Linked DNA regions of Homo sapiens. The protein of the gene in region 1 interacts with the protein of each later gene in a pairwise test. Each region holds a gene or a part of one and is shown in the gene's direction. Other genes may lie near its edges.

Region 1 (3,500 bases):
TCACCATCTGTGTATTTTATTATTTCAAGAATGTTATATAAATGGAATTATGCAGTATGTAACTTTTTGTGGTTGGCTTTTTTCCCTTGAGGTCCGTCCAAGTTGTCGTATGTATCAGTACATCCTTTTTATTTCTGTGTGGTATTCCGCATTATGGATGTACCACAATTTAACCATTCATCTGTTAAAGGATATCTGGAGCCGGGCGCGGTGGCTCACACCTGTAATCCCAACAGTTTGGGAGGCCAAGGCGAGTGGATCATTTGAGGTCAGGAGTTCAAGACCAGCCTGGCCAATATGGTGAAACCCCATCTGTACTAAAAATACAAAAATTAGCCAGGCAGTAGTGGCACACACCTGTAATCCCAGCTACTCGGGAGACAAAAGCAGGAGAATCGCTTGAGCCTGGGAGACGGAGGTTGCGGTGAGCCAAGATCATACCACTGCACCCCAGTCTGGGTGACAGAATGAGACCCTATCTCAAAAAAAAAAGGATATTTCGATTGTTTCCAGGTTTTTAGCTATTACAAATAAAGCTGCTATGAACATTTGTGTACAGGTTTTTATGTGAACATAAGTTTTCATTTTTCTAGGATAAATGCGTAAGAGAACAATTGTTGGGTCATGTGATAAGTACATTTTTAGTTTTATAAGAAACTGCCAAACTGTCTTCCAAAATGGCTGTACCATTTTGTATTCCCACCAACAATATGTGAGTGATTTTATTTTCTCTGTGTGCTTGCCAACATTTGTTATTGTCACTGTTTTTTATTTTGGCCATTCTGATAGATGTGCAGTGATATTTCACTGTAATTTTAACTCGCATTTCCATAATTAATGATGTTGAATATCTTTTCGTATGTTTGTCATACGTATGTCTATGTCAGTGAAATTTCTGTCCATGTCTTTTGCCCATTTTCCAGTTGCATTGTTTTCTGTTGAGTTTTGAGAGTTCTTCATATCGTAAATAACTTTTAAAATAATTTCTTGTTTACGTTTTTTTCTTGCCAATCTCTAGAAAACTAAATGTATAAAGAGACGACCACCTTGGCAAATTTGTTCAAAGTTTGGAGCACTGCCTTTTGTGGCTGAAAAGGTGAGAGGGGATAAAATGAAGATAGTCGTTCAAAAAAACTCCTGTTTTGTTGTAAGTGCTATTTAAATATCTTCAGTCATTTAAAATTATTCTCAGTTGTTTCTTTTCCCATAAGTCTACCAGTGCAAGCTGTTCTGTGAATGCAAGTATGCAAAACTTTTTGCAGATGAGGCAACATCGTGACCCACATATCCTTCAGAAACCTTTTAACGTGACTGAGACTAGATGTCTCCCCAAGCCTTCTAGAACAACTTCCTGGTGTAAAGCTATTCCTCCTGACTCAGAAAAGTCCATTTCCATTTGTGACAATTTATCTGAACTTTTGATGGCAATGCAAGATGAGCTGGACCAAATGAGCATGTAAGTATTTATATTCTTTTTTTTTTTCAAGAGACAGTGTCTCGCTATGTTGCCCAGGCTAGTCTTGAACTCCTGGTTTCAGGCAATCCTCCTGCCTCGGCCTCCCAAAGTGCTAGGATTACAAGCATGAGCCACCGTGCCTGGCCAGTATTTTTATTCTTTATCAGGAGAAGTACCATATCACTTTTTCTTCTTAGTCTTAAGAACAATACCACTTATAAATTCTTAAAGGCGTTACTTAGCCATTTGGACAGTTTGTTGTCCCTATTTTTCATTGTATTTATTACTATTTAAAATTTCAATTCTTTATAGCTACTACTTTTTCATTCTTAGGTATTTCTGTATTCCCAAAATCTGGACTGATAGATATTATTATCATTCTAACATACAGGATCTGATGACCTTAGATTAAAACTCACAAAAGCTTTTATAAGACAGGCTCTCCTTTTGTGTTTTAGAATCTTTTAGCTGAATGAATTATTTCATTAGACAAGTAGGAATGTAATTCCTTGTTTTAGACTCTGGCTGGTCTGCATTACAAATTTTGAAGCATCTATAGTAAAGAAGATTTCCATATGGGATACATTATATTGTGCCCACCTGCTTAAATATATATTCAACAGAAATTCCAGAACTATGTGATTTGGCTGACCAGCTAGTTGATCTAAGACTTCTGTAGAAGATATAACTCTTTCTATTAACAGTATTTCAGTAGGCTAACTCCAAATCCAGAAATTTTTCAGGCAGATACTTCTACAACTGGAATTCTTCCAAAGATCCTATATCAATAACGAGGAAGAAAGCCCTTTAATACCTCTGTTAAAGACATCATACATTTTACTACATTCAGCTATGAGCATCAGGAATTCAGATGTTTTTAAAAGTTGCTTAGCCGTCTTAAGATATTTCTAAAGGTATTTAATTTCAAATCACAGGAGCCTGGTTATATTTACCATAGACTTAATTAACCCTAAAGAAAGAGGCTGTTTTTAAAGGTTAATATTTAACTCTGACTAAAATTTATGATTGAACAGAAAATTGCTTAATTATGGCAAAGAAATATATGCAATAAACTATAATACTGCTTAATATTTGCTATTCTTTCATAGGGAGCACCAAGAACTACTGAAACAAATGAAGGAAACTGAAAGTCATTCAGTCTGTGACGACATAGAATGTGAACTAGAGTGTTTACTCAAGAAAATGGAAATTAAAGGAGAACAAATCTCCAAACTGAAGAAGCATCAAGACAGTGTAAGAAGGCTTTAGTAAGAGATTTTAATAAAAACACAAAATATCTGGATTCAGTGTTGTATCTCTGTATGACTTTCCAAATTTGAGGTCTGTATATGGGATTTAGTGAAAAGATGGATGGTAATCCCTTAGGCCTATGACAGAATAGAGCCATCTGTCCCATTGGAATAACATGGACCTCCTACATAACTCTCCAAGTTAAAATTTTTTAAGTGAGCAAATAAGTTCAGTTATGTATTCAGAAATTGCTTTGGGGAAATTGTGAGGCAGACTAAACTTGCCTTAGCAGCCCTCCAGTTACCCTTTTAGCATTCTTTTTCGTTTTCCTTCTCTCCTCTAATGCCTTAATGATACCCCTTATGTCAGCAGGTCTCTCATTCACTGCCAGACATAAACCTGGCTCCCAAGCAGTGCCCCAATCCTTAAAGCATGATTTCCCCTTTCCCAAAACAAGCTGTTTTATGTTCCATTCCCTGGGGTCCTATACTCAGCTAGCTATAGTGAGTAGAACAGGGATGGTGAAGAAAACTCTGCACTTGTATGTTAAGATGTAATAACTAAGAATAGCTAACAGTTTTCTTATTTTAACAGAAAAATCATGGAATGTAATATTTAATTCCAAGACAATGACTCCGTAGGTTGAACTTGCAGCACTATTACACTGCTGGAGCAGAAAGCAGAGGGAGCCTTTCCCAGGAACCCTCAAGTCACATCATGTAGCCATCTGGCTATGGACAAAATCATCATTCATATAAGTTAGTGATATATGAATGTCACAAATAAGCCTCCC
Region 2 (3,500 bases), about 22 Mb from region 1:
ATTCTTAGTAGAGACGGGATTTCACCATGTTGCCCAGGCTGGTGTCGAAATCCAGGCCTCAAGCGATCTGTCTACGCCTTAGACTCCCAAAGTGCTGGGATTATCAGTGTGAGCCACCATGCCTGGCTCATTATGTAAATAATTTAATGCATACATCAAAGACAAGTTGGAAACAAAAGAAAAAGGAAAATGTAATTCTCTATGGACTGCCTCTGCACCTGCTATATAAAACAAGTCTATTTCTCTATGGACTACCTCTACCTCTACTGTATAGTACAATCATTATTAACAATTTGGTGATGTTTCTCTTTGTTAGTTTCAGTTATGCTACCTATGTAAAAGTATATATCTTGCGTTTTTGCTTAATAGTGAAATTTTAAAGCAAGAAATAGTCATATAATTGATAAAATTTAACCTATAGATTTTTAAATTTGTTATTTAAACATATTTTTAATTTGCAAAAAGTTCTCAGTTGGTTTTGTGGCAAGGGTATAGGTATAAACTGTGCGTGGTGGATATGTTAATTATTGACCTTGTAATAGTAATATGGGTTGTCTTATAGAGTCATTGCAGAATTGTACTTGCAACAACTCAGGGAACATAGTGTCCTGCCAAAGTGAAGCCTGTCCCTCAGCATATCACAGGAGGAATGAGGAGGGATACAGTTCTCGATGCAACATCGTATTATCAATAATGCTTTTCAGAGGAAATTTATCTAGAACTGAAATAAAAATACACGTAACCGAAAGGAACATATATACTACATATATATTTCTGCTACTATATATGCTTATGTATAGTATACTACATGTGCTTACATATAGCATAAATATATAATATGTATATATTTATTTTTTCATATAGTATTAAAATTAAAATATATAATATATATTTTGTAGAAATGGTCTTCTTTATTTTCTGCTTAATTGGGAGGTTTTAGCCTTTTCTGATATCTCCTGTTTAGTTTGGCTGTTTAAAGTCTTAGGTGTTTTGACAAAGTATTCCATTTAAGTCACTGTAATAAATCTTCCCTCCTGGATTTTTGTCTTGAGGCTACATGCTGGCCACTGTTTTTTATTTCATTATTACAGCTTAAGAAATTACTTGTTTTCCTGAAGTAGAATTGCCATATCCAATCCAGTTTTTCTCTAGTTCTTACGTAAGAAGAATTCTAAAAATTAAATATATAGAACATTGTTATTTGGCAATTTTAGTGGAATTTCTCGAAGAACATCACCGGGTCCTAGAGTCTAGATTAGGCTCTGTTACCCGAGAAATTACAGATAACAGAGCATGTGCTAAAGAAGAATTGGAAAGCCTCTACCGGAAGATTATCAGCTATGTGTTACTCCGCTCTGGCCTTGGATCCCCTACAGACATCAAGACTGTCAGAGAGGTAACAGGTAAAAAGTATAACCAATTTCCATTTCATAAGTGAAAATATATGGTCATTGTATTTTATAAAACATGTTAAATTAGAAGTGTTAAAGATTGAAGTTCCCTTTTTATCTGAAAAAAAAAAAAAAATCAGCACAAATGAGTTAAAATGTACCCAGTCTCCTTTTACACTGTGTATCCATTCTAAAACTCAAGTAGCACCTCTAGAAAGTGAAATATTGCTAATTTTCCTAGAGCTGTACATATCTAGGCACCTATTACACCCCATTAGAGAAACATTGATAGTAGGATTGAGGGTACCAGGCTGATTGAGTAAATGGAAAAGCTGAAAACGGATATTTCATATTGATGAAAGAAATTGAGTCTGTCATTTAAAATGGGTGATGGAATGGGGCACCATTTTATCCTTAGGAAGTCTTTGCCCTCTTTCATCCTTTAAAATGAGGAATAGGAAAAATGTCTAGCTCTCCTATGGCTTTCTTCCATAATTATTTTAAAGCATCCATTTTTTGGCTCAGATCCCTAATTAGAAAGCTTGTTTTCATGCCCATTGCCAAAAAGTTACTGCTGGATGCTTAATTATTAAAAATGGACATGAGGCAATGGCATAACTCTCAGTAATCCAGCTTTGATGCGTGATAAGTTTTATTATGTATCCTATAATCAGGTATCAGTAATTTAAAGAATCATATAAGTAACTCAGACCCTTAACTTGCTGCTAAAGAAAAACGTTATTTAACGTCTGATATCTTTATTCTATCATTTTGTTTTCCTTTTTTTTTTTTCTGGTTTATTTTAGCTGCTCTACAGAGTGTTTTTCCTCAGGCAGAGCTTGGGACATTTCTAACTCTTTCTAAGAAGGACAAAGAACGCCAGCTGAAAGAACTCACCATGATTGTTACTGGAATTCGTTTATTTAACAGAGACTGTGGAAAAGGAGGAGAAGGCATTGATGATTGTAGGTATATCATTAGATTAATTCTAAAGGTTATGTATGTTTAAAATTTAACTTGCACAGTGAGGAAAATAATAAACAACACACCACTGGCATTCTTAAATTTAAGATTTGCATTTTTTACTGTTTCCTTAAGAATAACTACTGTTTATAATGTGTAGTGATTTTTACTTTTGCTGGGGCAAGACTTTACATTTTATGTACCATGAAGCTAGTAGGAGAAAGTGAATCAGTGAAAGCAATGAAGGGTCCTGCTCAAAGCTAACCTCCCAGTTCAGCAGGGCTTTGTGTTCATTACTGCAAGTCCGTAACCAAAAGGGAGTACAATTTAGTTATTTAAAAAATAAAAATCTTCCTGAAAACAGTTCCTGGTGCAGTTAATGGAATGAAAAGATCCACGAGGAGATATTTCAAATCTCTAAATTCGGGGGCATTTACTTTGTGGTTATATACTTAATGCATTCTTTATAAGTTTGAAAGTACTTATGAAATATTTAATGAAGTACCTACCAGTAGAAGTAACTTCCTTATGAAATTTGGTACTCCTGTAGGCCCACTGATAAGGTGTTAGTGTCTTTCACCAAATCACTAATCTAGTATAAAAGGGTAATTTTTTCTATTTTAAAAACTGTTCTAAAAAGTCAAATTTCCATTTTCATAAATGACCCTCCCTTGCTAGACTATTCTGTCATTTTTCACCATCCAGATGAGTTTCTTAACAAACGTTCCTTTTTTTTTTTTTTTTAATAACTAGAAAAGAAGATATACAAAAGGAAGGGTCAGTGGCTTTTCTGGAAGCACATGGTTAACAACACATAATACCAAACTCTGCCTATTCTCTGAACTCTTCTATATTTAGTGGCAAAAGCTGACCTACTGTAACTGGGTTATCATTCTGTTAATATCTTTTGTTTGAACTTGTTTTAGATTCTTTTTTTTTTTTTTTTTGAGATGGAGTTTCGTTCTTGTCGCCCAGATTGGAGTGCAGTGGCGCGATCTCGGCTTACTGCAACCTCCGCCTCCCGGGTTCAAGTGATTCTCCTGTGCTGGGATTACAGGCATGCGCCACCACGCTCAGCTAATTTTTGTGTTTTTAGTAGAGACGGGGTTTCACCATGTTGGCCAGGATGGTCTCAATCTCTTGACC
Region 3 (3,208 bases), on another chromosome or scaffold:
TCTCTGTTAAAATATCCTTTTATTTCTCTTTTGCAGATAGTTCATCCTCATTGTGTGTGCTAGTAAGCACTGTTGGAAAACTCTGTAGGCTGATTAATGAAGATGTGAATGAGCAGGTTATGCAGGTATTAGGACCTGAAGACCTCCAGAGGTATTTGTTTTAAAAGTTTACAAAGTATCATCCAGAATGGCTGGGTGTGGTGGCACACGCCTGTAGTCCCAGCTACTTGGGAGGCTGATGTGGGAGGATCACTTGAACCCAGGAGTTTAAGTCCAGTCTGAGCAAGGCAGTGAGACCCTGTCTCTAAACAATAAAAATTAAAATAAGTATTATCGAGAGTTCCTGGAGGGGTGAAATTAAAGACTTTCAAAACTTATTTACCTTCCCTGTTTGGAATAGCATCTTTTGTGTGTGTGTGTGACTGTAAGCACACGCCACCACGCCCAGCTAATTTGTGTGTGTGTGTGTGTGTGTGTAGAGAGAGAGATAGAGACAAGGTTGCACCATGTTGCCCAGACCAGTCTCAAATTCCTGGGCTCAAGTGATCCGCCTGCCTTGGCCTCCCAAAGTGCTGGGATTACAGGTGTGAGCTACCATGCCCAGCCTTGGAATAGCATCTTTTAAGTAACTTGACAATCTAAGATAATCTCAAACCCTTAGGGATGGAGGAAATGCCAAATATTTTCAAGATAAAAATAGATTGTAAGGCCTATAAAGAAGGTCAGGTACTCTTCAGCATAAGCCTGTTTTCAGGAAATATTATATATGGAGAAATTCAAACCTTGTTAGCAACATCATGTAAGTTCTGATTATATCAATAAGTTCTATTTTTAGGACACTACCATAGACCACTGAATAATCATTAATAGTATATTTATTTGATTAGAAGATAAATGTTGAGGAGTTTTTAAAAGACTAGGCATCTATAACATAAAAGCTGGTATTTTTAGAAAATATCAAGACATTGTAGCTATAGTTAAAGCAACTTTCCCCACACCTGACCCCCAATTTTATATTACAGCATATGTGAAGGGAAACACACAATATATACCACATAAACCATATGTTTTGCAAGTTTTCCTAGAAGAACCCTTACATAATCTGACACTTGGTGCTTTTAAAAGGAACATATATCTTGCTATTGGCCTATTTCTTCCTTCCCACAGTTTTACTGACTACTGATTTTTTTTCTTTTTTTCTTTTCTTTTTTTTTTGAGACAGAGTCTCACTCTGTTGCCCAGGCTGGAGTGCAGTGGCTCAGTCTCAGCTCACTGCAACCTCCGCCTCCCAGGTTCAAGCAATTCTCATGCCTCAGCCTCCTGAGTGGCTGGGGTTACAGGCATGCGCTACCACACCCAGCTAATTTTTGTACTTTAGTAGACGTGGGGTTTCACCATGTTGGCCAGGCTAGTCTCGAACTCCTGACCTCAAGTGATCCTCCTGCCTTGGCCTCCAAAGTGCTGGGATTACAGGCATGAGCCACTGTGCCCAGCCTGATATTTTTTCTTAATGTTTAATAGGATACTGGGTGTAAAAGCCAATTATTTTTAGAAAATGCTGTAAAAGCATGATCTAAGAAGCCTTGAGCTTAATGGGAAATTTGCCATGTTAAGAATGTTGTATATTGGCTGGGCGTGGTAGCTCACGCCTGTAATCCCAGCACTTTGGGAGGCCGAGGTGGGCGGATCACGAGGTCAGGAGATTGAGACCATCCTGGCTAACACGGTGAAACCCCGTCTCTACTAAAAATACAAAAAATTAGTCGGGCGTAGTGGCAGGCACTACAGGAGGCTACTCGAGAGGCTGAGGCAGGAGAATGGCGTGAACCCGGGAGGCGGAGCTTGCAGTGAGCCGAGACAGCGCCACTGCACTCCAGTCTGGGTGACAGAGCAAGACTCTGTCTCAAAAAAAAAAAAAAAAAGAATGTTATATATGAATTTAACAAATTTTACATTGATATTGAAATGCTTTTTTAAGAAAAGTGATATTGGATTAACAAAAAGCTCAGAAAGAAAAGACTGTAGTAAATGATCATTAAGTTTATATTTAAATTAGCAATATAGTTTCTATTTTGAAAATGTTCTGTTTGCAATCAGATGCAAGAACCCAAAGTTAGAAATCAGGTTTAAATTGTGCATTTTTTAAACAGCATTATCTACAAATTGGAAGAACACGAGGAATTTTTCCCAGCATTTCAGGCATTTACTAATGATCTACTTGAAATCTTAGGTAAGATCTCTGGTGGTGATGGTGAAATTTTGAGTCTTAAAATGTCAGTGCATTTAAGAAAAGGGTGTTCCTTGGTCACTGGATTAGTATTTTTACCTAGTGGTTGGAAACCACTAACAGTTCTGGAAACACATTCCTTACAAGCAGTTAGAGTTTGTTTGGATTAGTCCATAGAACAGAAACACAGACCCTTAACAGCAATAGGAACTACCTTTGTTGGAGGACCTTATCATGAGAGATGGCATCATTCTGTCCATGCCTAGTTTAACCCTGGCTCTGTCATTGTCTAATGAGAAATATTCTTAGGATTTATGATCTTAGAAGGTCCTTCCTCCCTCCTTTTTTTTTCTTAAGATACCACCTATCTACAAAATTTTTTAAATATACAAATAATATTTCCTCTCTGGTTATATGAAGTAACATAAAGTCATAAATATCTGTGGAAAGGAAAAGATGAAATATTACACTTATACTGAGGGTCAGATTGAGGGCTTCATTAGTAGTAGTGTCTCCTAAAAGGAAAAAATTTGCTTAGGACTCATAAGGCAAAATAGAGACCTTATCTAGTTTAAATATAATTACATATGGCTATAAAATTATTTATCTTACTATTAAGAATGATTTTTAAAGTTTTAAAGTGATGTATTCACCAGTGAATTTTTTCTGTATAGCTCATTTGAAAGATTTTTTTTTTTTTTTAAAGAATGGCTCTTTGCTTTTAGAAGAGGAGATGAAGCTTGGTATGAAAATAAGGGAATGAGTCAATGAAAACTTGATAAGAAGAATAAGTGAAAGAAGTATCTAATTAGAATATATAGCCTACTGAACATAAAGGAAGTTTTGTGACCAGTCTTATGTGCAGTGGGGAAGCAAGGGAGACAATGAGTGAGCTTGCTTTAGGCTTGTCCTCATGTTTAAAAAGATCACAGCAAGTGAAAATGTAATTTGAAAGTTAAACTTGAGATGAGGTATGAAACT
Region 4 (3,500 bases), on another chromosome or scaffold:
CTCTACTAAAAATACAAAATTAGCCGGGCGTGGTGGCACATGCCTGTAATCTCAGCTACTCAGGAGGCTGAGGCAGGAGGATCGCTTGAACCCGAGAGGTGGAGGTTGCAGTGAGCCGAGATCACGCCATTGTATTCCAGCCTGGACAACAAGAGCGAAACTCCATCTCAAAAAACAAAAAATGAACAGACACATAACTATAAGATGGGAAATGTTGGGAAAGAAATGAACAGCCTATAATGATTAAAAATAAATAGGAGAGAACCTATTGTTTTTCTTCTGACTCCACTTTTTATTTATTATTTTTTGAGACAGAGTTTCACTCTCTTGTCCAGGCTGGAATGCACTGGTGCAGTCACAGGTCACTGCAGTCTCAACCTCCCAGGATCAATCAATCTCCTCACCTCAGCCTCCCAAGTAGCTGGAACTAAAGGTGCATGCCACCACGCCCAGCTAATTTTTATATTTTTTGTAGAGACAGAGTTTCACCATGTTCCCCAGGCTGGTCTCGAACTCCTGGGCTCAAGTGATCCACCTGCCTTGGCCTCCCAAAAGTGCTGGGATTATAGGCGTGAGCCACTGTGCCTGGCTCCACTGTCGATATACATACATACATACACATATACACACATACACACGAACGCACACACACATATATTTTTTTGAGATGGAGTTTTACTCTTGTTGCCCAGGCTGGAGTGCAGTGGCGTGATCTTGGCTCACCACAACCTCCACCTCCCAGGTTCAAGCGATTCTCCTGCCTCAGCCTCCCAAGTAGCTGGGATTACAGGCGTGTGCCACCACGCCCGGCTAATTTTGTATTTTTAGTAGAGACGGGGTTTCTCCATGTTGGTCAGGCTGGTCTCCAACTCCTGACCTCAGGTGATCCGCCCGCCTCAGCCTCCCAAAGTACTGGGATTACAGGCATGAGCTACCATGCCTGGCCTATATTTTTAAATTCACCTGTTATTTTAGATACAGAGGTGCATGTGCAGGTTTGTTACATGGGTATATTGCATCCAGGTAGTGAGCATGGTACCCAATAGATAGTTTTTCAACCTACGCCGCCCTCCCTCCCTCCCTCCCTCCCCACCTGGTGGTAGCCCGCAGTGTCTGTGGTTTCCATGTTTATGTTCGTGTGTACTCATTATTTTACCTGCCACTTATGAGAACATGTGATATTTGGTTTTCTGTTAATTTGTTTAAGATTATGTCCTACAGCTCCATCCACGTGGCTGTGAAGGACATGATTTCATTCTCTTTTTTTTTTTTTTTTTGTGATGGAGTCTCGCTCTGTCACCAGGCTAGAGTACAGTGGCACAATCTCGGCTCAATGAGACCTGTGCCTCCTGGGTTCAAGTGATTCTCCTGCCTCAGCCTCCTGAGTAGCTAGGACTACAGGTGCACACCACCACACCTAGCTAATTTTTGTATTTTTAGTAGAGACGGGGTTTTACCATGTTGGCCAGGATGATCTTGAACTCCTGACCTCAAGTGATTCGCCAGCCTTGACCTCCCAAAGTGCTGTGATTACAGGCCTGAGCCACCATCCTGGCCTAATTTTTTTATTTTTATTTTTATTTTGTAAAATAAAGGTCTCACTATGTTGCCCAGGGTGGTCTCAAACTCCTGGGCTCAAGCAATTCGCCCTCCTCGGCCTCCCATAGTGCTCGGGTTAGAAGTATATGCCACCATACCAGGTGACATTCTTCTCTTAAAATATCAAATGTTACATATGACGCTTAGGCCCTTTTAACAACTCTCCCCCAGAAGAGAAAATATGAATACCTACTCCCTCCCTAATGGTAGCCACTGTTTCAAAATTGATATGTATTCTATTCTCTGGCCGTTTTTCTATCTCCTCCATATATTTTAATATACAGTACATACTATATAAATATATAAATAAATATATAAATATATATAAGTATATAAATATTTAAATATATATATAAATATATATATTTAAATATATATATAAATATATATATTTATATATATATAAATATATATAAATATATAAATATATATATAAATATATATAAATATATAAATATATATATAAATATATATAAATATATAAATATATATATATATAAATATATATATAAATATATATAAATATATATATATAAATATATATAAATATATAAATATATATATAAATATATATAAATATATATATAAATATATATATAAATATATATATAAATATATATATAAATATATATAGATATATATATATAAATATATATATAGACAGAGAGAGGGAGATAGTTCTGCAACTTGCTTTTTTTTCTTATTTATTGGGAGTTTACCCATGTTAGTACATGTAGATCTCTCTCATTCTTTACAAATTCAGCGAAAAAAATTTTTTCAAAAATTACAGGTTGCAGATGAAACTATATAGGCTGCAGCACAAATAATTCTTCATAGGTGCTGATTACTAATAAAGCAACAGGTACTGGAAGGATTCATTATCTAAATGGGTCAAGCCAATCTAGGGAAGATTATCCTCTAATCTGGTGGCTGCATTTACAACATTCCACAAAAAGCCGATTAAAGGGAGAGGATGCTATTTTAGGCTCTTGGAAAAATAATGTCTATGGCCTAGGTTATTTTGTATACTAAATATTTTCTCAGTGGAGACAATTAAAGATTAAATTAGAATTGGAGGTCATTTACTAGCCATTCATCTGTTTTAGGTTAAACACTGTGAGATCAGTTTATCTGAAAAGTTTCAGCTAGCGTTAACAGTATTAAGCTGAAAACAGAATGGATCCAGTGCAAAATCAGTACATAAGTATAATTTATCAGACCTGCCGCATCTTTCAGAAGCTACTCATTCTTCTATATGGTTTTCAAACGGTTCTTCCAGGTCCAAATAAATTTGATCCTTCTTGTGTAAATGACTGCTATAAGACATGATTTTTAAGAGATATTCTAAAAGAATGAATGAGAGCGCATAGATTCTTTTGCTTAAAAACAGTTCTTTGAAATACCCTCCCTGTTTTAATTATAGTTTTTGGAACATAGGCCTTTTTCTTAATACTTGGTGGAATATAGCTCTTTAGAGCAGCCAGCATTTCTTTGCATGGTTCATTCTTTTGGGAGGGAGTAACTGCCCTCTTCCCAAGGTGGAATTTTTTTTTTCTGTACATTCATTCATTCATTCAGTAAATATTCCTTGAACATCTGCCATTAGCCAGGTACTTTTCTAGACACTGGGGACACAACATTAAACAAAGCAGACAAATCCTTGCCTTTCTTTTTGTTTTGTTTTGTTTTTTTGAGACAGGGTCACACTGTTACCCAGGCTGGAGTGCAGTGCCTCCATCATAGCTCACTGCAGCCCCAACCTCCTGGGCTCAGGTGATCCTTCCGCCTCAGTCCCCCAACTAGCTGGGACTATAGGTGCATACTACCTCACCAAGCTAATTTTTTGTATTTTTTGTAGAGATGAGGCCTTGACGTGTTACCCAGGCTGGTCTGAAACTCCT
Region 5 (3,500 bases), on another chromosome or scaffold:
TGGTCCACTTCCCTCCTTTTTTTTTTTTTTTTTAAACAGGAATCTCTATCTTAGACCATTTTGATTTCTAAAATAGCAATATTTCTTATGTGACTATTTCATTATTGTGCTGCTGCCACCTGGTGGCCACAGTAGTGATGTCATACTTCAGTTTAATTTCTTTTTTTATTGCAAAGACACTATTAAGCCAAAAGATAGGCTGATATATTTTAAGATATAGAATACTGTAAAATATATAAAGGTTGCACATCGATTGTGACTCAATTGATTGCCACAATGTCTAGGTTGAATCCAGGACTATAATTTTTAGTTTATCATAGTCAAGTTATTTAACTCTCTAAGCCTGTTTTCTCAAAGTAATAGTATCTGTCTTTTATGAGTATAGTGAAGATTGATTTAGACAATGTGTACAAGGCAGCTGTTGAACATTCAGTAACTTAACTTCTAAGTATATTATTAAATAGTCATAGAAAATATATTAATGTATATTACTAAATATATTAATGTTTAAGAATAACATGACCTAAATAAGTATAATTTTACTAATGATAATTTTGAATAACTGTGATAGCACTGTCAATAAGAATAGCACTTTCCTACATGTTAGTTAAGTATCCGTGTATGGTTGTCAGGAGCATGCTACTTACAGTGGACATTTAATTGGCTGTTAGAACCCATGAAAAAGCTGGAAGAAACCTTAGAGAATATTGTTCATGCCCCTCATTTTGCAGATGTTAAAACAAGTCCGAGAATATAAAGCTAGTTAGTTGCAGAGTAGGACTGTATCCTGGGTCTCCATCTAGTGTGGTGTGGACCGTGTACTGCCTCCCAGTTCTCCTAGAGTGGACCAAAACATGGAATCTTGGTTGCATTGTAGTTGGACTGTATTGTGATTTGAAAGTGGAGTAAAACATGGGAACCTTTTTCTTTAGGTTTTTATTTTTGCAATTTTGGTGTAATATGTAGGATAAACCAACTAGAAAAAAAATCCTCCCTGTCACGTTTGTGCACAAATAATTTAATACTCAGTTTGTTAGTATCTTTAAAAATAGATGCAAATAAGGTGCAGTGGTTCTATTTTCCAGTCTTCTCATTCTCCTCTGTGTCTCTGGAACACCCTGGGCATGTCTCTCACTATATTTATCACACTGGGAAAGCCTTTTTGGCTCATTTTTTTCTGTCCCATACTAGACTATTAATACCTTGAAAGGGGCCATATCTTTCATCACTATATATCTAGTTGTTAGTACAACATTGAATTACGTGTTGAGTAAAATAATCTACTTCTTACAGCAGTATAATTTTTAGATGAGGATTAGCCCAGGGGCAGAACCTCTACACCACAGTCTGGTTATTGTCTTAAGGGTTTAAGGAAAAAGCATTTTGGAATGAAAAGTGGTTTGACATTGAACATTTTGAAGATTTATTATAAAAGGCGAGAAGCATACACATATTAATCAACACTACTGAGTTTAAGGGTCCTCTTTCCTTTCTCACTGTCACCTTTCTTCATGGTGTATCTTACCCTTTATTTTATATTTATTTATTTATTTATTTATTTATTTATTTATTTATTTGAGATGGAATCTCTGTCTGCCACCCAGGCTGTAGTGCAATGGTGTGATCTCGGATCACTGCAACCTCCGCCTCCCGACTTCAAGCGATTTTCCTACCTCAGCCTCCCCATGGCTGGAACTACAGGTGCATGCCACCATGCCCAGCTAATTTTTTTTTTTTTTGGTAGAGGCGGAGTTTTACCATGTTGGCCAGGCTGGTCTCAAACTCCTGACCTCAGGTGATCCGCCTCCCTCGGCCTCCCAAGTTCTAGGATTACAGGCGTGAGCCACCGCACCCAACTGTATCTTGCTGTTTATATGGCAGTCTTCTATCTCCCGTTCCCTCTTTCTCTGCTAGACCCTTCATGTAGTTCCCCAGCTGTGACCAGTTTGCATGGGGGAGAGGGTAGGTAAAAGAGGGAGGGGAGTTAAGTTCAGCCAAAATAATCTGCCACGTGCCATGTTGAAATGCTGCGTTGAGCTCTGCAGCTGCAGAGATGAATAAAATTGGGTTTCTGCCCTGGAGGGATGAATAGTCTAGTAAGGAAAAATAGTATGTAAAAAACTCACTTCCAGTGTGGTGCAACTCCTATGAAAGAACGTATTAAGCACTGGGAGCAAATGAAGTGCAGAGGTGGGAGGGCCCTGTGGCTGCCTTTCGGTGGAGAGAGGATGTTGCATGCAGGAAGCTCTATGAGCCTGTCTTCAGGAGTGAGTAGGCTTTCCCATGATAGACCAAAGAGTTTAATCTCAGTACACTTCGCATTTTTTATACTATCTCTTTAATTTTTAAAAAGCTATACTTTCCCTCTGACATGTGTGAACCCATTTCTTTCTCATTTTGTTAAGGGAGTTTGTGTATCCGTCTGCTAGAGAGATCCCACCTCCACCCCTGCTCACCCGACATTAGGAATTAGGCAAAGAACAATGAGATATTTGATATTTACACGGAGAGAGTGTCAACCGCAATTCAGATATTTTTAAGTTATTCTGTTTTAGTCCGAAATAGTTTGTTCCTAGTATTCCTGAAGTGATGTTCTTTGACTGCTTCTACAGTCATCTTAAGAAGTGCTGCATTTTTTCATTATTATGTATGCTTTCATTCACATTCTTAAGTTGTAAGTTAGAATGTTAGAACTGAAGAAATGAATTGTCTCATGACTGATATTTTTTTCTTTGTCAGTTGCCAAAACAAAGGGGATTTGGTGATGGAGGCTTTGTTAGAAGGAATACAAAATCGAGGGCATGGTGGGTAAGTTTGCTTTTTTTAAAATTAATTTTTTTGGTTAATACATGATTACATATTTATAGGGTTCACATGATACTTTGATACATACATATAATGTGTAATGATCAAATAAGGGTATTTAGTATACCTATCAGCTCAAGCATTTATCATTTTTTGTGTTGGGAACATTTCAATTCTTCTAGCTACTTTGAAATATATAGTAAATTTTTAAAGTTTAAGGAACCTTACTGTGCTAGTCACCCGACTGTGCTAATTACTTAACTAGTTACATACTAGTTACTTAGTAGTCACCTTACTGTGCTATTTAACACTAGAGCTTACTCTTCTACCTAACTGTATGGTTTGTACCCATTAACCAAACATTCTTCACCCCCAACCCCTTCCCAGCCTCTGGTAACCATCGTTCTACTCTCTACCTCCATGAGGTGAACTTTTTTAGACCCCACATATGAATGAGAACATGAGATATTTGTCTTTCTGTGCCTATTATTTCACTTAACGACCACCAGTTTTATCCATGTTGCTGCAAATAACAGGGCTTCATTCTTTTTTATGGCTGAATAGTATTCCATGATGGATATATTTCTGACATTTTCTTTATCCATTAATCTGCTGTTGGACACTCAAGTCAATTCCATATCTTGGTTATTGTGAATAATGCTGCAATAAACATGGGGGTACAAGTATCCCTTTCA
Region 6 (3,305 bases), on another chromosome or scaffold:
TTATGAATATTGCCCTCAGATTTATTTTCACTCCGCTCCTTCCATTCATATTCCCAGAGACAACCAAGAGCCGACTGTAGAAAAAGACTTCCAGACACCTAGAATATATATCAATAGACACTGTTTAAAAGGGGTACAATCTTATCGAAAACTATGTAATAAACAGAATTGGATGCAGAACTCAGACATAAGAAAGCAAAAAAAAAGAGAGATGAGGCTATTTCTGAATTTAGTCATGACATCTCCATGGATGCAGGATGTTCATACAGATTTATGCCTTTTCCAAATTTGACTTGTTTGATATTGGAAATGCAATTTTACTGTTTTGAAGCCAAAGATGCTGAAATCAGCTTATATGTATAGATATTTAAAGCTTGGGTATCTTATATGTGGACTTACATTGCTAAACATTGTTAAAATAACTTAAAATGAATCAAAAACGTGTTTTTTTAAAAGAATCCCTGAGATACATACAAGTTTGAAAATTATTGAGAAAATAATTGCCTCTGCCAAAACCAAATGGTATGAAAAGGTAGTCTGAATCATTCAGCATATCTAAACATAATCTTGTTCTTCTCAAATATGCTTGGAATACATATTTGACAGGTTTGTTTCTGAGAAAATTTAGTGGAAATATTGTAGTCCAAATTTCCTATAGATTCCCCTACAGCCTTCATCATAATCATTTCTTTAGAGAGAAGTAAACAAGAGGACATTTGTGGCACTTTCTTCATTGTCCTTTATAGCATTTATTACTGAATAAATCACTATCCTCTGAGGAGGAAAGGAAAGTAAGCAGCAGAGGCCTATGAGTTGTCAGTCAGGACTGGGGAAAATCACAAACAGGAAGATAAAAAATGAACATATTTTATTAAATTCTCATAGGGTTACAGATTTTTTTCACACCACATTTGGAGACGTTTTTGGGGGAAAATATACCTTTAAAATTTTATCTGTAGTTAATTTGGATCTTCTTGGTCTACCCCACCCACAAAGGGTCAAATAAGAAAATAAATAAATTCAATCCAATCCTGAAATTTTAGTCTGATGCAGTAACTGAAACAGCCTAAAGGTAAATTTCCCAGTATCTCAGGTTTTTCCTCACCACGCTCTCTTCTCCAAGATGGCAGTTGAATGTAGGCAGAAAGAGCTGACTCTAGGACCACAGAGCAGTCAAGTGAAGGGTTTCTCACATCCCTTAGTCTTCCCTGGCATCTCTGGTCTCCATGGTAATGCCTGTCTGTCTGGTCGCTAGCTGCTTGCAGCTTAAGTTTTTGGTCTCGTCTCTCCCGGACTGGTGAAAGGCTGATGATGCCTCCCCAACTGGCTCATTTCAGTTCTCAATGGTGTCGAGGGCCTCCTTGATTCTCTGCCAGGCTGTCCTATCTGCTCCCTGGCTCTGGTGGTCTACTTCACAGACCCTCACCAGTGTGTGGTGTGTCTGAGTTCTTCCCTTATCCCCATACCTCACAGTAACAAAGAGTGACTTTGGAAAGTCAGATTCCAACCCTCCCTCTGCTTAGCCCACGGTGTAGATGCTAGGTTTCCTCTGATGTACCTGCCTCCCAAACTGGAGAGGGGAAACCATGAGGTGAATTGAATCTTTCTACTTCCCTTCTAAAATAAGGAGGTGGGATTCAATATTCCATGAGGTTCATCTACCTCTGACATCCTGTGATTCTATCCCCACTTCTCTGCTTCCTCTGAGACACCCTCAGGCCCACCTCTGAATAACAGTGAGCTCCTCCAATTCTAAGAGGCCTTGACATATCTGACTTTGCTCCTCATCATCCCCATGTCAAAGAACCCCTAGAGATAAAGTCAGCCTGGAGGTTAAATCTGCAAATAAAGGGTGTCCTATGAAACCAGTAATCAATACCCTTATATTCATTTCTATCATGCTGGAGCTGGACTGTTTCTGGGATCTTAAATGTGGGGTTGGCCAGTGGTACGGTGTGAATGTTTGTGTTCTCCCAAAATTCATATATTGAAATCTCAACTTCCAAGGTGATGGCCTTAAAAGTAGGGCCTCTGGGAGTTGATTGGGTCATGAGGGTGGAGCCCTCATGAATGGGATTAGTGCCCTTATAAAAGTTGCCCCTCCACCAAGTGAGGACACATAGAAGGCATCATTCATGAGGAACAGGCCCTCACCAGAGAGCAAATCTGCTGGCCTCTTGGTCTTGGACTTCCCAGACTCCAAAACTGTGAGCAATACATTTCTGTTGTTTATAAATTACCCAGTCTAAGGTATTTTATTATAGCTGAGACTAAGTCAGGGGTCACCATCTGGTGGAGACCTTGCATCCTAGTTAATTCATATATCCTTAGAGGCAAGCCCAGAATTTCTCTTTCCTTTGCCAATTCAATAGCAAGACAAGATCTCTATGCCATTCAGAAAAGCCAGTTTGTTCCTTGTAGAAGATCTAGTAACAGGAATTTTTACTCTGGTAGGTAATAGGTACATTTACTCCATCTTGAGCTCTCTGCGTCTAATACACATTATTCAGAATGCGATGGCATGCAGACCTGTATTCCTCCTCCCTTCAGCACTCCTTCCTCTGGACTGGCCTATGCCACCTCCTGTTCCACTGAACTGATTATTAAAAAAGGAAGAGATCACGTATGTAGAAAATAATCATGTTCACTGGAAGGAATGACATATTTGTTAGCAAACGATTTACATTTCAAGGCTTTCACCTCTAACTTTGAAAATGAAGCTCGCAAGATGCTTAAAGATTATGTCTGTGAAGCGGATCCCAAAAAAATATTGTGCAAGAGAATGAAGATCTGTTTACTTTAGGTTTATGTCAGTTTACCAAATAGCTCCAGTCCAAAGAGTTATTTATACACTCATCCATTTATTAAATCTTTAAAAATACTTAAAAATCTTATGAGGCAGTAGAATTTGAAGGTTTGTAGTTTGAATAATCAATAAAAGATGATGTTTAGGGTTGAAAGCCGCTATGTTAGTTTGTTGCCATGACTTGGTGGCTTGAACAACAGAAATTTGTTGTCTCTCAGTTCTGGAGGACAGTTCTGGGAACAAGCTGTCAGCAGGATTGCTTTCTTCTGAGGCATTTCTCCTTGGCTTAAAAATGGCCAGCTTCTCAAACTGTGTTCCTCTGTGCCTACATGTCTGGTGGCTCTCTCTTTATATCCTAACTCCTCTTCTTATAAAGACACCCTACTAACTTCATTTTAACTTATCTTTTTAACGGTCGTATGTTCAAATACAATCACATTCTCCAGTTCTGGGGTTAAGGCTTTGGCATGAACTTTAGGGGGAACAATTCAGCCCATAC
Region 7 (3,500 bases), on another chromosome or scaffold:
GTATGTAAAAAATATTTGCATTGTGGTACAAATCTTTTATGATTGCTGAAAATTATTCTTAGCAATTGATGGTAGAGCTCTGATGTGAAATCATGTTTAGGAAAGCATTCCTTGCAGTATTACAGTTTTCTGAAACACAGCACTATGGGTACAAATGTCATAAAAAGCTCCAAGAAAACATTTCAAAAGTGTTTTTGAATGTATTTCTTTACCTAAACCTAAATTTTTATACTCATGGCCATTGCTTCTTTTATTAAAATACAGTTAATAGCATCAATCACTAGATTGCTTAAAAATGCTTTTCTTATTGTGCATTAAGTTATTTCTACCCTTTTGAGGGTTCTATTATATAAGATACTTTTTTGTGTGCTTTACGTAATGAATTGTGCAGTATTTCATGGAAGCATCTCCTTTGAATTGTAGGACATTTTATAAATGTAGAAATTAAAGTCTGTGCTTATAACTCTTTCTGCACATTTAAAAAATAGAGACTTTTAATTATTTGCTTTTTTTCATCATCTGTCAATTAAGTGATTTTCAGTTATACCAACTGGAATTGAAATGCGAATGTTAATACCTGAAAGGTTTTACAGAAAATAAGTGAGTAAATCTTGCTTTTTGAAATGATCTTTGCATTTTATATTTTAAATATCCTTCTGAAATTGCTGAACCATAAAGTCCCATATTGATGTCAGTATATGCAAAGAAACTACTTTTCAACATTAACTTTTAATCCATTTTCATTTACTATCTAACTGACATTAAAGAGGATCTTACTGCAAAAAGAAAAAGGATGAAAATGGATAAAACTTGCAGCAAAACAAAGAACAAAAGTAAACATGCTTTGAGAAAAAAGCAACTTAAAAGGTATGACTGTTGGCTTTTTTGCATAATGATATTTATATCATTTCTTTGTATTAGTTGGTGCAAATAATTTCAAAAACTATCCTGTACATATTGGCGTCTCTAGTGAACAACATATTTTACTTGATTGTTCTCTAAGTAGGTAAGTTTCTTTAGTTTTATAACCTCAGTTTAACAGAATTAAGAGATATTACCTAGAAGCCAATGAAGATGACCTCTTTTTGCCTTCCAGATAAAAATAGCCTTCTTGTAAAATTAATGTTTATCCATTTCTAGAAATATGGTAGCTGCATATAAGATAAATGTTCTCAATGTTTAGTCTGTAGATCCTTAACGATACTCAATTATGTAGAAAGGGATAACCTTATGTTGTAAATAAGTTATCTATTTTAGTTAAATTGTTTTCACTATTTCTTTTACAAAATCATTGGTGTGCCAAAGTGGAGAAATAGTTAAGTGAAGTTTTTCTTTTGGGAAATCTTATGGGATGAATGGCTATGATATTCTTGAACCTACTTATGAGAACCCATATGTTATTCAGTAAGAGGAAATGGAAAGTAAACTGCTCTTAGAGAAAATGTTTCTGGGAAAGTTATAGTGCAGTAAACCCTCCTTTGTCTTCAGCAGGTAAAGAATGTAAGATAGCTGCTCTAGTAGTCAGGAAGAAAAGAATCCTTTCAAAATGAGAGTAACTCATTTCACTTTTTTCCAAAAAGAAGATTTCAGCTGCTATTACTCCCTTGCTACTTTATAGTATAAATTATGTCAAGTCAGTTTGGGTTTGAATAGGATTAATTTTTCATCTCTCTATGACGTATGACCGTGTTACTTATTATGTGTTACAGGCAGAAACGTGATTATATACATTCTCTGAAGTTGCTAAATGTCCTTGAAGAATACATCACAGACGAGCAGAAAGAGGAAGAAGAAGAAGAGGGAGAAGAGGAAGAACTAATTGTTGGTATCATGCTTAGCTTTATGTATAACCTGTTATGTCAGTGTCTCAGGTAGTAATAGTTCATGCAGAAATCCAGCAAAGAAGGAAGAGCGCATGAGCCCAGAGAGGGGGGCCCGTTAGTGGACTAATGGACTAGGGGAATATAATTGCCACGCAGCATTAGGGGTCCAACTGAAGTCAGCATCATAACGATGAAGAAGTTAAAGTAAGCCCAGTTGGCATATTTGTGCAAGCACAGCTGTAGGGTTGGAATTTCCTGGGTCGGGGTGTAGCCGAGCAGATTGATAGAGGGAGAGTTGGGCAGGGAATAGATGCAGAGATGGGGATATGATGACTGGCTGTGGAATTTCAGCTGGGACTGAGTTATCTGAGCACACGGGAGTGGGCAATGGGCAGTAAAAAGTGCTCCATTCAGTGGGTGTCAGGTCCCAACAGACTCCTGAGCTGTAGTACTGAAGTGAGTGACCTACGATGGCAGGGAGGTAGTGGCTGTATGTTGGGAAGTTGGAGAAACAGCTGAGTGCAGTGGTCAAGGGCTGGGACTATGCATCCACACTGCTTGGGATTCTAGCTTGACCATTGCTAGCTCGGAAACCATGGAAAAATTATTTATCTCAGCTTGACCATTGCTAGCTCGGAAACCATGGGCAAATTATCTTATCTACGAAAGGAGACATGGTAAGAGTACCTACGTCAGAGTTGTTTGGAGGATCAAAGGGTTTCTGTGTAACAGGTTTATTTAAGTTTTTCAGGATGTGATCTGACCCATGGTTGCTCTTTATCATTGCTATTATTAATATTACGTAGGTGTTGAAGTCATTGGGAATGACAAAATCTAGGGGATGACTGTGTGAGTGAGTGCCACGTAGAGGAGAGGAGAACACTGTTGTTGGAGATTAGGTCAGGGTGCAGAAAGGCAATCATTATTGGGTGGTTCATCTATGTGCATATTGAAATGACCGAGATTTAATACATGCTTAAAATCTTAGAAAGAATTTTTCTTAGTTAATTTCTGTATAGATCTTACCTATCTGTGGTCAACAAATTATAGGAAGGTTCATCAAATACTCTTCATTGGAAATCAAGAATTAGGACATATGTGTTGAATGTGTAAAAGTAAGAAAATTCTTTACTTAATGACTGATAAAAAAGGTTAATACATCATTTTAGCATGTTATTGGTGAACACAATTGTTTAAAATTGGTCCTAAATGTTGTCTAAAAGAAAGTGTTCAGAGGTATTGATTTAAACAGTATTCCTTTAAAGCTAATGCAGAATTATGTTTTGTAAGTATTAAAATTTACCCAATTTTTATCACTATTTTGTTTTGGGATTCTAGAGAATATTTCAAGAACAACAGAAGAAGTGGCAACAATATAGAAGTGTTAGGAGAGAGAGGCTGAAAGAGATGAAGCTGCTACGTGACCAATTCGTAAAGGTCTGTTCTATTTGGTAACATAATACATTATAAAATACAACACGTGCATAATAGAAGACAGTCTGCTTGTTTCTGAATGTATGGAAAGACATTTGATTATACATTTCAAATTACTTAGCATTTTCACTTTGAATGTATTGTTCCAGATATAATATAATTGGTAAATGTATTTTTAGGATTCATGAATAGTTTGTGGGAGTTATTTAGAACAGGAAAAGGTAAATTGGAAATTTTACCTAG

The links.
Region 2: the proteins of CEP57L1 (region 1) and CFAP206 interact in binary tests that used the Homo sapiens proteins (3 or more experiments, as listed by UniProt).
Region 3: the proteins of CEP57L1 (region 1) and CEP70 interact in binary tests that used the Homo sapiens proteins (3 or more experiments, as listed by UniProt).
Region 4: the proteins of CEP57L1 (region 1) and FAM161A interact in binary tests that used the Homo sapiens proteins (3 or more experiments, as listed by UniProt).
Region 5: the proteins of CEP57L1 (region 1) and CEP63 interact in binary tests that used the Homo sapiens proteins (3 or more experiments, as listed by UniProt).
Region 6: the proteins of CEP57L1 (region 1) and ROPN1 interact in binary tests that used the Homo sapiens proteins (3 or more experiments, as listed by UniProt).
Region 7: the proteins of CEP57L1 (region 1) and FAM9B interact in binary tests that used the Homo sapiens proteins (3 or more experiments, as listed by UniProt).

What each region holds. Positions count from the first base shown.
Region 1 is NC_000006.12:109,158,007-109,161,506, forward strand, and holds part of CEP57L1 (centrosomal protein CEP57L1), read left to right. Parts: intron 1-1,018; coding exon 1,019-1,096; coding exon of another isoform or gene 1,097-1,147; intron 1,148-1,211; coding exon of another isoform or gene 1,212-1,262; coding exon 1,263-1,456; intron 1,457-2,565; coding exon 2,566-2,710; coding exon of another isoform or gene 2,711-2,724; intron 2,725-3,500. UniProt on the Homo sapiens protein: Centrosomal protein which may be required for microtubule attachment to centrosomes.
Region 2 is NC_000006.12:87,414,472-87,417,971, forward strand, and holds part of CFAP206 (cilia- and flagella-associated protein 206), read left to right. Parts: intron 1-1,214; coding exon 1,215-1,403; intron 1,404-2,197; coding exon 2,198-2,356; intron 2,357-3,500. UniProt on the Homo sapiens protein: Essential for sperm motility and is involved in the regulation of the beating frequency of motile cilia on the epithelial cells of the respiratory tract. Required for the establishment of radial spokes in sperm flagella.
Region 3 is NC_000003.12:138,497,053-138,500,260, reverse strand, and holds part of CEP70 (centrosomal protein of 70 kDa), read left to right. Parts: intron 1-36; coding exon 37-151; coding exon of another isoform or gene 152-164; exon of another isoform or gene 165-377; intron 378-2,150; coding exon 2,151-2,230; coding exon of another isoform or gene 2,231-2,397; exon of another isoform or gene 2,398-2,925; intron 2,926-2,933; coding exon of another isoform or gene 2,934-2,998; exon of another isoform or gene 2,999-3,208.
Region 4 is NC_000002.12:61,847,561-61,851,060, reverse strand, and holds part of FAM161A (protein FAM161A), read left to right. Parts: intron 1-3,500. UniProt on the Homo sapiens protein: Involved in ciliogenesis.
Region 5 is NC_000003.12:134,492,557-134,496,056, forward strand, and holds part of CEP63 (centrosomal protein of 63 kDa), read left to right. Parts: intron 1-2,739; coding exon of another isoform or gene 2,740-2,764; coding exon 2,765-2,808; intron 2,809-3,500. UniProt on the Homo sapiens protein: Required for normal spindle assembly.
Region 6 is NC_000003.12:123,971,820-123,975,124, reverse strand, and holds part of ROPN1 (ropporin-1A), read left to right. Parts: intron 1-3,305. UniProt on the Homo sapiens protein: Important for male fertility. With ROPN1L, involved in fibrous sheath integrity and sperm motility, plays a role in PKA-dependent signaling processes required for spermatozoa capacitation.
Region 7 is NC_000023.11:9,027,628-9,031,127, reverse strand, and holds part of FAM9B (protein FAM9B), read left to right. Parts: intron 1-531; coding exon of another isoform or gene 532-560; exon of another isoform or gene 561-767; coding exon 768-867; intron 868-1,709; coding exon 1,710-1,821; intron 1,822-3,161; coding exon 3,162-3,260; intron 3,261-3,500. UniProt on the Homo sapiens protein: May play a role in meiosis.